Regions from separate parts of the Homo sapiens genome. Here all the other regions are linked to region 3. The links come from fine-mapping of genetic effects on gene expression. A gene starts in region 3. Each other region holds a variant in brackets. All regions are shown on one strand. Distances are between the middles of the regions. Region 1 overlaps AXL (AXL receptor tyrosine kinase). Region 2 overlaps TGFB1 (transforming growth factor beta 1). Region 3 holds the start of HNRNPUL1 (heterogeneous nuclear ribonucleoprotein U like 1).

Evidence for each region. PIP is the estimated chance that this variant, and not a neighbour inherited with it, causes the effect.
Region 1: its variant is the best candidate, but not a certain one, in a credible set for the expression of HNRNPUL1 in whole blood (TOPMed, PIP 0.63).
Region 2: its variant is the best candidate, but not a certain one, in a credible set for the expression of HNRNPUL1 in fibroblasts (GTEx, PIP 0.52).

The regions. Positions count from the first base shown.
Region 1 is chr19:41,224,923-41,229,051 of GRCh38, forward strand. All of the region lies in intron 4 of AXL (AXL receptor tyrosine kinase), which reads left to right. Among named protein-coding and RNA genes, the nearest start is that of AXL, 7.8 kb to the left of the region's middle. RefSeq lists an enhancer at 1-264. The variant A/G (reference allele first, on the strand shown) is at 2,528.
Region 2 is chr19:41,337,197-41,341,379 of GRCh38, forward strand. All of the region lies in intron 5 of TGFB1 (transforming growth factor beta 1), which reads right to left. Among named protein-coding and RNA genes, the nearest start is that of TGFB1, 15 kb to the right of the region's middle. The variant C/T (reference allele first, on the strand shown) is at 2,354.
Region 3 is chr19:41,262,677-41,266,859 of GRCh38, forward strand. It overlaps HNRNPUL1 (heterogeneous nuclear ribonucleoprotein U like 1), which reads left to right and starts at 1,696. Exons shown (of 15, transcript NM_007040.6): 1 at 1,696-2,122. The coding sequence starts at 1,828. RefSeq lists enhancers at 128-667, 668-1,207, 1,208-1,746 and silencers at 1,752-1,991, 2,082-2,151, 2,172-2,221.

The DNA.
Region 1 (4,129 bases), 38 kb before region 3:
AATCTATGTGTCCATGGCAGTGTCTCCATCCTTGTGTGTCTGCATCAGGCCTGCGCATCTACGAAACTGTGTTTTTTTGTTTTTTGGGGTTTTTGTTTTGAGACGGAGTCTCACTCTGTCACCCAAGCTGGAGTGCAGTGGCACGATCTTGGCTTACTGTAACTTCCGCCTCCGGGGTTCAAGGGATTCTCCTGCCTCAGCCTCCTGAGGAGCTGCGATTACAGGCACGCCTGGCTTATTTTTGTATTTTTAGTAAAGACAGGGTTTCATGACAGGTTTGTCATGTTGGCCAGGCTGGTCTCAAACTCCTGACCTCAAGTGATCCACCGGCCTCGGCCTCCCAAAGTACTGGGATTACAGGCGTGAGCCACCGCACCCAGCGCAAATGTGTTTTTGTATCAGTCTGTGTCTGGGTGAACATGAAACCTGGGCGCATCCAGCTCCATCTTATGGCGTAGATGGAGGCTTGGCTGTGAGGTGTACGCGTCGGTGTGTCTGTGTCTGAGCAGGTCAAAATGACCCTTCATTGTGTCCTGGTGTGTATCTATCTGTCCACCTCAACTCCATGTACGCTGTTACGTGGTGTGTGTCTCTGAATATACAGGGACATTTAAGTTTCTGTGTGTGTTGGCATCAGCCTAGATGTACATTGCGTCGCTAGGTGTTTGTAATCAATGTGTACATGTGTGACTGTGTGTTTATGTGTTTGTCCCACGTTGGCTTGTATGCATACATGTCTCTTTATGAATGTACATCAGTGTCAGCCCGCGTGTATATGTGTGAGTCACGGTGTTTTTGTGTCACTGTGTTTGTGACATCAGCCCTTGCATATCTGTGTGCCGTTAACTTACCAAGCGCTGCGTCTTCTGTGCTAATAACAGCCCCTGTGTGTTTAAGTGTGATTCATTGTGAGTGTGTGTGTGGGGGGGTTTGCTGTGTGAAGGAATTTCGTCCGTTTGTGTGCGTCTGTCCCTCTATCTGACTCAGGGCGTGCCCCTCCTCCTTCCATCCCTCTCATTCTCTGGAAAAGCTGGGGCGGAGAGCAGGGGTTGTGGGGGGATGGTCAGGACATCTGGAAAGCACATCTGGAATCGGCCTGCTCCTGTCGTCTTGCGGTAAAGCAAGAACCTTCTGGAGGGGAAGGGGTCCCAGTTCCTCCTGTCCCCTTCACTCAAGGTGCGGCCGTTGGGGCCTGGGAAGGGGGATCCCGGCTCTGGCTCCGCGCCCCCGAAGCCGGCCGGAAGCGCTGGGGTGGGGAGGTGCCCCCGGTGACTCACGCGGGGGCAGGAATGCTGCGGTCGGAACGGGACCCGGCTCCAGAACCCACCTCCAGCCCCAGGGCTTCTCCGGCCGGCGGCGCCAGCTCCCGCGCGCTGACCCTGGCGGGGCCCCACGTGCCAGGTGGCTGGACCCGACCCAGGCTCCCCGCCCCCACTCGGGCCGCCCGCCCGGGACTGTACTGTTTCTCCTCCGGGCGGCGCGGGGGCTGCGGGCGCGGGGCCTTCAGGGCGCGGAGGCTGCGGGAGCGGGCACCTGACCTTGTCTGGGAACGGCCACCTAGGAAGCCGCGACTGAGGAGCTCCCCTACCCTCCCCTTTCCGGCCTCTGCAGACTTTGCACCATTCCACTCCCTCCGCTGACGGAGAAAAGGAAACTTTGTGTCTGCGGATGGAGAGCCTCCCTTGCCAACGCGGTGGGAACAGAGGCGTACACGCACGGAGCAAACACGAGAGACACGTACACAGATACTCAACACATGCACGTACACACCATCCACAGATACACGCAGGGTCACAAACATACCAGCTCAGAAACACAAACACAGATGCACAAGCACACGCGTAAACAACACGCAGAACTGCAGTCGCACTTACAAGACTTGGTCCCAGGGCCGGGCACCGAGTGGCTCTGCCTGCGATCCAGCACTTTGGGAGGCCGAGGCGGGAGGATCGCTTGGGGCCAGAAGTTTGAGAGCAGCCTGGGCAACGTGGTGAGACTCTCCTCTTCTCTACAAAAAAAAATTGAAAAGTTAGCCAAGTGTGGTGGCCGCCTGTAGTCCCAGCTGCTTGGGAGGATGAGACAGGAGGATCGCTTGAGCCCTGGAGGTCAAGGCAGCAGTGAGCCGTGATTGTGCCACTGTACTGCAGCCTGGGAGATAGAGCAAGAACCTGTCTCAAAAAACAAAACGAAAAACTTGGTCCTTCTTACATCCTAGCGCAGACATTGTGTGTGTGTGCTGGGGGAGGGGGGTGTCTATGTTTCTACGTGTATCTGTGTTGGGGGATTCCCCTTATTCACCAGGATACGTTCTCTAAGAGCCCCCACAAAAGCCTGAAACAATGAATAATACTAAACCCTGTATATACTACACATAACTTTCTTTTTCCTTCACAATTTCGCAGATAGATTGTTTTCTTACTATAGATCTTAGCAACCTCAGTACATATATATATGATTATCTTTTTCTAAGTGGAGAATTTTCACCTTTTCACTTAAAAGGAAGCACTTTAAGGCTTCTCTTTGGCCT[A/G]TCCGAATTGCAGCCATCACTATTTTGCACCCTGGGGCCTTTTTTTTTTTTTTTTAGACAGAGTCTCTCTCTGTCGCCCAGGCTGGAGTGCAGTGTGGCGACCTTGGCTCACTGCAACCTCCGCAGCCCGGGTTCTAGCAGTTATCGTGCCTCAGCCTCCCGAGTAGCTGGGATTACAGGCACGCGCCACCATGCCCGGCTGATTTTTTTGTATTTTTAGTAGAGACGGGGGTTTCACTGTGTTGCCCAGGCTTGTCTTAAACTCCTAATCTCAAGTGATCCACCCGCCTCGGCCTCCCAAAGTGCTGGGATTACAGATGTGAGCCATAGCACCCGGCCAGGCGATTATTTAGATAAATAAGAGTTTCTTGAACTCTGCACTTGAGCACTGCAGTACCAGGACAGTTGATCTGATAGCTAAGTGACTTACAGACAGGTATCAGATACAGCACTGAGATGCTGGACAAAGGGGGGATTCACGTTCTAGGCCAACCAGAGTGGGATGGCATGAGGTTTCATCACAGTACTCAGAACGGCATGCAATTTAAAACTTAGGAGTTATATCTGGAATTTTCCATTGAAATATTTTTAGACCAAGTGTAACTGAAACCTCAAAAAGTGAAACCTCGGATAAAGGGGGACTGATGTACGTTGTATAGCGGTTTGTGTTGGGTATCTCTGTGTGCTTGCAGGTCTGTGTCTCTCGTGTTTGTCTCTGTAATTGTACGTGCTTCTGTGTGTGCACGCTGGTCATACCAACACCAACACCACCACGTTAGGGAGGGAAGGCAATCCACCTTCACTCGAAAACAGTTACTCAAGGCCGGGCACGGTGGCTCACACCTGTGATCCCAGCACTTTGGGAGGCTGAGATGGGCAGATCACTTGAGGTCAGGAGTTCGAGACCAGCCTGGCCAACATGGTGAAACCCTATCTCTACTAAAAATTACAAAAATTAGCCGGGCATGGTGGCGCGCTCCTGTAATCCCAGCTACTCAGAAGGCTGAGGCAGGAGAATGGCTTGAACCCAGGAGGCAGAGGTTGCAGTGAGCCAAGATCATGCCACTGCACTTTAGCCTGGGCAACAGAGCAAGACTCTCAAAAAACAAAAGAAAAAAACAGTCAAGACACAATACGTGAACTCCCCTATGGAATTACACATGCTCATATTTCTACACCTATGCCCAGGAATGCTCATAAGTACATAGCTGAACACAATTTCACTCACTCATTCAACAAGCATTTATGGCACACCTATTGTGTGCCAGGCCATCCTGACACAGCAGGGGACGAAACAGACACAACCCCTGCCCTCCTAGAGCTGACATTCTAGTGGGAGAAACTGACAATGGGCAAGGTACTTGGGTAACAGGTAAAGTATGTTGGGTGATGAGAAGAACCAAAGAGGAAAAGTAAAGCGGGAAGGGGATAGATTTGGAGAGGAAGCTCCAATTAGCTCCAATTTTATTGTATTTTTTCTTTCTTTCTTTGTCTTTTCTTTTCTTTCTTTTTTTTTTGAGACAGAGTTTCACTCTTGTTGCCCAGGCTGGAGTGCAATGGCGTGATCTCAGCTCACTGCAGCCTCTGCCTCCCGGGTTCAAG
Region 2 (4,183 bases), 75 kb after region 3:
AATGGCGCGACCTCGGCTCACTGCAACCTCCACTTCCTGGGTTCAAGCAGTTCTCCTGCCTCAGCCTCAAGAGTAGCTGGGATTACAGGGCCCGCCACCACGCCTGGCTCATTTTTGAATTTTTAGTAGAGAGGAGGTTTCACCACGTTGGCCAGACTGGTCTCGAACTCCTGACCTCAGGTGGTCCACCCACCTTGGCCTCCCAAAGTGCTGGGATTACAGGTGTGAGCCACGACAGCTGGCCTGATTTTTGTATTTTTAGTACAGACAGGGTTTCACCATGTTGGCCAGGCTGGTCTCCAACTCCTGACCTCAAGTGATCCACCTGCCTCAGCCTCCCAAAGTGCTGGGATTACGGGTGTGAGCTACCATACCTGGCCTCTCTTAGGACTTTTTTCAAAATCTACAAAATCATCTCTCTCTCTCTCTGTATATATATTCAGGGTCAACTATATATAGACTGACCCTTGGACATGGGTTTGAACTACATGGGTCCTCTTACAAAATTCACCACTTACAGGTGAATTTTTCTTCCACCTCTGCCCTGAGACAGCAAGACCAACACCTTTTCTTCCTCCTCCTCAGCCTACTCAACATGAAGACCTTTATGATAAGCCACTTCCACTCAATGAATGGAAAATATACTTCCTCTTCCTTATGATTTTCTTAAGGACATTTTCTTTTCTCTATCTTATTTTTAAAATGCAGGCATAGGCCGGGAGCAGTGGTTCAAGCCTGTAAGGCCAGCACTTTGGGAGGCCGAGGCTGATGGATCACCTGAGGTCAGGAGTTCAAGACCAGCCTGGCCAACATGGTGAAACCCCGTCTCTACTAAAAATACAAAAATTACCCGGGTGCGATGGCGGATGCCTGAAATCACAGCTATTTGGGAGACTGAGGCAGGAGAATTGCTTGAACCTGGGAGGCGGAGGTTGCAGTGAGCTGAGATCACTTCACTGCACTCCAGCCTGGGTGACACAGCTAGACTCTGTCTCAAAAAAAAAAACAAAGAATACGGCCGGGTGCGTGGCTCACCCCTGCAATCCCAGCACTTTGGGAGGCTGAGGCGGGTAGATCACTTGAGGTCAGGAGTTCAAGACCAGCCTGGCCAACATGGTGAAACCCCACCTCTACTAAAAATACAAAAGTTAGCCGGGCATGGTGGCAGGTGCCTATAATCCCAACTACTCAGGAGGCTGAAGCAGGAGAATTGCTTGAACCCCCGGGAGGTGGAGGTTGCCGTGAGCTGAGATTGTGCCATTACACTCCAGCCTGAGTGACAACAGCGAAACTCCGTCTCAAAAAAAAAAAAAGGGGATATAGGACATAATACATAAAACATGCAAAATATGTATTATTCGGCCGGGAGCAGTGGCTCATGCCTGTAATCCTAGCACTTTGGGAGGCTGAGGTGGGCGGATTGCCTGACCTCAGGAGTTCAAGACCAGCCTGGGCAATACGGTGAAACCCCATCTCTACTAAAATACAAAAAATTAGCTGGGCGTGGCGGTGGGCACCTGTGGTCCCAGCTACTCGGGAGGCTGAAGCAAGAGAATCACTTGAACCCGGGAGGCAGAAGCTGCAGTGAGCCGAGACCGCACCACTGCACTCCAGCCTGAATGACAGAGACTCTGTCTCCAAAAAAAAAAAAAAGTATTAATCAACTGTTTATGTTGTGGATAAAGCAGAATTCCAGTCCACAGTAGGCTATTAATAGTTAAGTTTTTGGGGAGTCAAAACTTGTATGTGAATTTTTGGTTGCATGGGGGGTACGTGTGTGTGTGTGTGTGCTTTCCCCTTCTTTGCATTGTATTTGATGAAGAAACTGGGTGAGGTTTCTTGCAGTCTGAGTTTTGCTGACCATTTCCTCTGTTCCTGTCTTTCTAGAAAACTGTTAGGATCTACAGTCCTGATCAGATTCAGGTTTGATTTTTTTTTTTTTTTCCTGAGACAAGGTCCTGCTCTGTCCTGAAATGCAGTGGCGTGATCCTGGCTGACTGCAGCCACAACCTCCTAGGCTCAAGCACTCCTGCCTCAGCCTCCCAAGTAGCTGGGACTACAGGCACACACCACCCAGCCAGCTAGTTTTTTTGTATTTCTTGTACAGAGGCAGGGTTTTAACATGTTGCACAAGCTGGTCTTGAACTCCTAAGCTCAAGCGATCTGCCTGCCTTGGCCTCCCAAAGTGCTGGGATTACAGGCATGAGCCACCGCACCTGGCCTTCAGGTTTGATTTTTTGCCAAGACTTCCTAGGCAACATTGGGTCCCTCCCTACGGAGGCTGACATGGCTGGCTATCTCCCTTTGTAATGTCAGGAGCTGTTGGCACTCAAGACCTCAATTTGTGGCCGGG[C/T]GCAGTGGTTCATGCCTGTAATCCCAGCACTTTGGGAGGCCGAGGCGGGTGGATCACGAGGTCAGGAGTTCGAGACCAGCCTGACCAACATGGTGAAACCCAGTGTCTACTAAAAAAACCAAAAATTAGCCGGGTGTGGTGGCACACGCCTGTAATCCCAGCTACTCAGGAGGCTGAGGCAGGAGAATCACTTGAACCTGGGAGGCGGAGGTTGCAGTGAGCCGAGATCACGCCACTGCACTCCAGCCTGGGCAACAGAGCGAGACTCTGTCTCAAAAAAGACCTCAATTTGTTCATTGACAGCGTTGCTGGGCTGATGGCGCTAAGATCTGGTGGTGAAGGAGCCTGGGAGCAGGGCTGATTTTCTGGCAGGGAAACAGCCGGTAACAAAGCCCAGAGACAGGACCAAAATATTTTAAGCAAGGGAGGAATAAGGTCAGATGATCACTCTAAATTTACAACATTCTAACTCTCCATTTCAACTTTCTAGGAATCCAACATTTCAGCTTTCTTAGATTGCAGTATTAGCATTCCAGCATCTTATGATTCTAACATTCTGACAGCATCTTCAACTCTCTAGGATTCCCCCTTTCCAACCTTTGAGGATCTTGGCATTCCTGAATTCCAGTATGCCAGTATTGCATCCCAACATTCCAAAGTTCTGAGCCATCACTCAAGAGGTTCAAACTGACACTTTCTTTCTTTTTTTTTTTTTTTTTTTTTTTTAGATGGAGTCTCGCATCATTGCCCAGGCCGGAGTGCAGTGGCGCGATCTCGGTTCACTGCAACCTCCACCCCCGAGGTTCCAGTGATTCTCCTGCCCCAGCCTGGGTACCTGGATAGCCGTAATCCCAGCCGAGTAGCTGGGATTACAGGTGCCAGCCACCACACCTGGCTAATTTTTGTATTTTTAATAGAGATGGGGTTTCACCATGTTGGCCAGGCTGGTCTTGAACTCCAGACCTCAGGGATCCGCCCACCTCAGCCTCCCAAAGTGCTGGAATTATAGGCGTGAGCCACCGCGCCCAGCCTGCTGCCACTTTCTATTAATAAAATCCCAGCATTCTAATATTCTAACATTCCAACACTGAGTTCCAACATGCTGAGATACCAATATTCTGCTTTCTCCAACTCCAACATTTGTGGATGTGAATATTTCAAAACAGAATTCTACCACTGTGAGCCCAATATTCAAGGACTCCAATCTGCCAACACTGGTATCCACAATTGGCCAGTGGTGCAGGAATTCCACATGGGCCATCTTCCCATTTTGAATCCCCAAATTCTAGGATTCCAATGTTTCAGCTTTCCTTGAGTCCGACATTTTCCATTTCAGTAATTAACACCAAATTCTAGCATTCTAGAATCCCAGCATTCTAGAACCTCAACCTGCCAACAATTTAGGGATTCAAGATGGTGACCTTCCAACTTTGAATTCCAACAATCACAGGGTTCAACTTTCTAACATTCTGTGATTCCAACACTCCAGCAAGAAAGCAAGGCTGGGCGTGGTGGCTCACACCTGTAATCCCAGCACTTCGGGAGGCTGAGGCAGGCGGATCACGAGGTCAGGAGATCAAGACCATCCTGGCTAACATGGTGAAACCCAGTCTCTACTAAAGATACAAAAAATTAGGCCGGGCGCGTTGGCTCACGCCTGTAATCCCAGCACTTTGGGAGGCTGAGGTGGGTGTATCACGAGGTCAGGAGATGGAGACCATCCTGGCTAACACAGTGAAACCCCATCTCTACTAAAAATACAAAAAAATTAGCTGGGCGTGGTGGCACGTGCCTGTAGTCCTAGCTACTCGGGAGGCTGAGACAGGAGAA
Region 3 (4,183 bases):
CGATGCCGCCTGCCTCTGCGGACCGTAGTGGGCACATCTACACTGCAGCGGGGTGCCTTACCCAAAGCAGATCGGAATTGGGGCCGGGCGCGGTGGCTCACGCCTGTAATCCCAGCACTTTGGGAGGCCGAGGCGGGCGGATCACTTGAGGTCAGGAGTTCGAGACCAGCCTGGCCAACATGGTGAAACCCCGTCTCTACTAAAAATACAAAAATTAGTCGGGCATGGTGGCGGGGACCTGTAATCCCAGCTACTCGGAAGGCTGAGGCAGGAGAATCGCTTGAACACGGGAGGCGGAGGTTGCGGTGAGCTGAGATAGAGGCCCTGCACTCCAGCCAGGGTAACAAGAGCGAGACTCCGTCTCAAAAAAAAAAAAAAAAAAAAAAGAACAACAAAAAAAAGAACTGGATGCGTCTGATCTGACGCACGCCTGTTTGTTTACGACTGCGGGGTGTGCCTTTGTCTGAGTAGAGATAGTGTGTGGCTTTTGCGGGCTTAACGTGTGGCTCAGGAGGCAGTGGGAGTCTGCATCATGTATCCCGATTGCGTCTTACTCGAGTTTTGTTTTGAGTTAGAGGCGACAGGTGGTGCAGCGTTAGACACTGGGAAGCTCTGTGGCTTTTGTATTCCTGAGCGCGAAGGTTAATGACGGATCCGTGGGGTTGAGCTTGTCGGTACAGACGCCAGACAGCCCGATTTACGGGAACAGCCGATTAGAGGATTCGGGAGAGCGGTCGGTGAACTTCTGGATGTCTTTCGGGAGGGGAAGGCTCTATGGTCGCGTGCAGAGCGCCCGTTCCACGTCAGGTACCCGACCATAGAGCAAGGCGGCCGCGGACTACCCAAGGGAAGGGGAGGCCGTGTCCTTTACAACTTGCCTCCCGTTGTTAGTCTAGTTTCTATAGCCAAACCTTCGGGACTCTCTCAACTCAAAATTTTGCTTTTCCTAAAGGCAACTGGGTTCCTTCCAGATTACGAACTGTGTATCCACTTAATCTCTATTTCGTATACCTCCTCCTACAGCGAAATTTGTGAGGCAGTCCTCTGAAGCACGGCCAATCTGGTGAACTTTTCCTAAAATGAGCCATCGCTACCAGCTTTAGTGAGCTAAGACAATAACTGCGATTGGTGGGCAGATTGTTTTGAAACCGCCCTAACGGCAAGGGGCGGGCTCCTGGTGAATTCATCTCTTTCCGGTTTCTTAAAGGCAACAGGAAGGAGGGGTTTCTGCCGACCCTCCATTTGATTGGTTCTAGTGGTTTTACCCGCTCGGACTCCTCAAGGGGCGGGAGATGTACACCAATCGGAATGTGTGTTACAGAGACACTTAGTTTGATGAAAGGACTGCGCAGGAAAGGCCGTGGGACACTCATTCTGAGATCTTACCGTTGATTGGACCAAATTGTTACTCCCTTATTTTCATTGGACCTTACGGCAGCCGGCGCGCGAGAGTTACCCAATCAGCAAGCGCTCCGCCTCCTGCCTTTTCCCGCCCTCCGCTCCGGCCTCGGCTTCGACGTAGGCCAACGCTTCCTCCCCAGTAGCTCCTAGGCCTTCTCGTGGCCGTTGTTTTGAAAACGGCGCTCTGATTGGCTAGGTTTCCGGGCCCGCGCCCGTTGCCCCACGCACTGACCAATTGGCACTCATGTAACATCGGACGAGGCACGAGTGAGGGGGGAGGCGGTGGCGGCGGCCATTTTGAGCCGCTGCCGCCATTGGAGTGGGCCCCCCCCCTTTCCCCCTTCGCCTCCTGACAGGAAAGGTTTAAGGGGGACAGAGCCCTGGGAGGCCGGGCCGGGCTCGGGGGCCACCCCGGGGGCCCGGGCCATGGATGTGCGCCGTCTGAAGGTGAACGAACTTCGCGAGGAGCTGCAGCGCCGCGGCCTGGACACTCGAGGCCTCAAGGCCGAGCTTGCTGAGCGGCTGCAGGCGGCGTTGGAGGCCGAGGAGCCTGACGACGAGCGGGAGCTCGACGCCGACGACGAACCGGGGCGACCCGGGCACATCAACGAGGAGGTCGAGACCGAGGGGGGCTCCGAGCTGGAGGGGACCGCGCAGCCACCGCCGCCCGGGCTGCAGCCGCACGCGGAGCCCGGCGGCTACTCGGGGCCGGACGGACATTGTGAGAGTGCGCGGGGCGGGGGCCGGGGAGCCCGGAGCCTGGGCCGAGGAAAGGGCTGTGGGACGCGGGAGTCCAGCGCCTGAGGTCGGGGAGACGACCTGAGGATCGGGGGATCCCGCTACCCGCCGCCGAAAAGGATCTGGGGACCAGGGCCCCAGCACGACCGGAGGGTGGATCCTGACACTCAGTGCAGGGGGGACACTGGGGGAGGGGCCTCTGGGTTTCGGAGGTGAGGGACGGGGGTGGCGGGGAGGATTCCGTACCGTAGGGATCGGAGACCGGAAACTGCTTTCTGGAGCCGAAGAGAGTCGGAAGAACAAGAGGTTTTCCGTTTGGGTTGGGGAGGGTCTCGAAAATGGGGATCCTAGGGTACGGAGCTCCGTGGGCTTGGCGGTCGTGCTAGCCCAGCGTGTGGGCTGGGGGGTGGGGAGCCGTGTTTCCAGGGTGGGGAAGGAATGTCCAGGTGTGCGGGGCTGCGAGAGTTCTGAGGAAGGAGGATCCTGGAATATGCCGCTGGATGCGATCCTGGGCGTTCTCCTATTTGGGTACGGGGGTGGGTGGGAGAGGTGGAGGCGCTGGTGTCTGTGGCTGGGGAGGGTCCTAATGGACTCAGTGCTTTGGAGTTTGGCTAGTGAGCATTTAGGGGCTGCGGGAGATTGAACTAGGGGGCACCCCCATCTCTCTTCCGGGGCTGGAAGGCCACCCTTGAAGCAGGCACAGCCTGGACATTAGGTGCTGGGAGATCTGGGGACTTTCTGGTTGGCTTCTAGAAGAGGTATAGGGAGCCCTGGTGTCCAGAGGCTGGCGGGGGAGAGGATGCTTTCCTGGACAAAGGATCTGGGGGTCTAGAGCTAAGAAAACTGAGGGCAAATAACTCTTGAGGCTGCTGCTGACTGGTCTGGAGCTAACTGTGGGGTTTTTGGAGAACAGAGGGTAGCTGGGGGTGGGATGGGGGCAGATGAGTTGGTAACATTCCAAGTGGATGAAATATGTGGCGGGAGACAGAGGATCCTGTGTCCAGCACAGGAGTACGTATCTGGCTTAGCGAATATGGGGAGGGGGGAGGCCGTAGGGAGCAAAGAGAAAGAAACCTGTTGACTTCACTGGAGGCCTCAGAGTGGAGTGTGGGGAATGTTTCTGGACCTGAGCGTCTCCAGGAGAAATCTCGACGGTTCCCAGAAGCAGTTATTTGTGTACCCAGGGAGTGGGGGCCCTCGGGGAGCAGCACGGAACTCTTCATCAGCCAGGAGCTGTGACTCTGGGAATGGGTTCGGGTAGACCTGCGGTTGTCTGAGGAGAGGAAAACCTGATATGGGACGGCGTGAATCTTCAGTTAGAAAAAAAGCAGCTTTCGGGCCGAGTGCAGTGGCTCACGCCTGTTATTCCAGCACTTTGGGAGGCCGAGGCGGGCGGATCACGAGGTCAGGAGTTCAAGACCAGTCTGGCCAGCATAGTGAAACCCTGTCTCTACTAAAAATACAAATATTAACCGGATCTGGTGGTGTGCGCCTGTAGTCCCAGCTACTCGGGAGGCTGAGGCAGGAGAATCGCTTGAACTTGGGAGGGGGAGGTTGCAGTCAGCCGAGATTACGCCATTGCACTCCAGCCTGGGCAACAAAAGTGAAACTCCGTCTCAAAAAAGAAAAAAGCAGCTTTCTTTCTCTTTTTTTTAAATACAGATGGGGGGTCTCGCTATGTTGCCCAGGGTGGTCTTGAACTCCTGGGTTCAGGTGATCTCACCTCGGCCTCCTGAAGTGCTGGGATTACAGGCGTGAATCACTGCACCAGGCCTCAGGGCAGCTTTCTAGTAGGACTGGGAAATGGGGGGACTGGAAAGGTTAAGGAGTAAGTAGAAGGGATTCTGGCGTAAGAGTTTGTGGAGTTTTTCTGAAAAGAGGGCACCCTGGGACTTGGGGCTAAGGGGATAAGGAGAGAAATGAGGTAACAGAAGAGACAGGATTTGGGGTTGGAATTGGATACTTGTTCATAAGAGAATTTCCCGGAGGGAGGAGTGTGGATTTGGGGTAGGCAGTGGCCTAGAGATTATCGAGGACCCAGGTG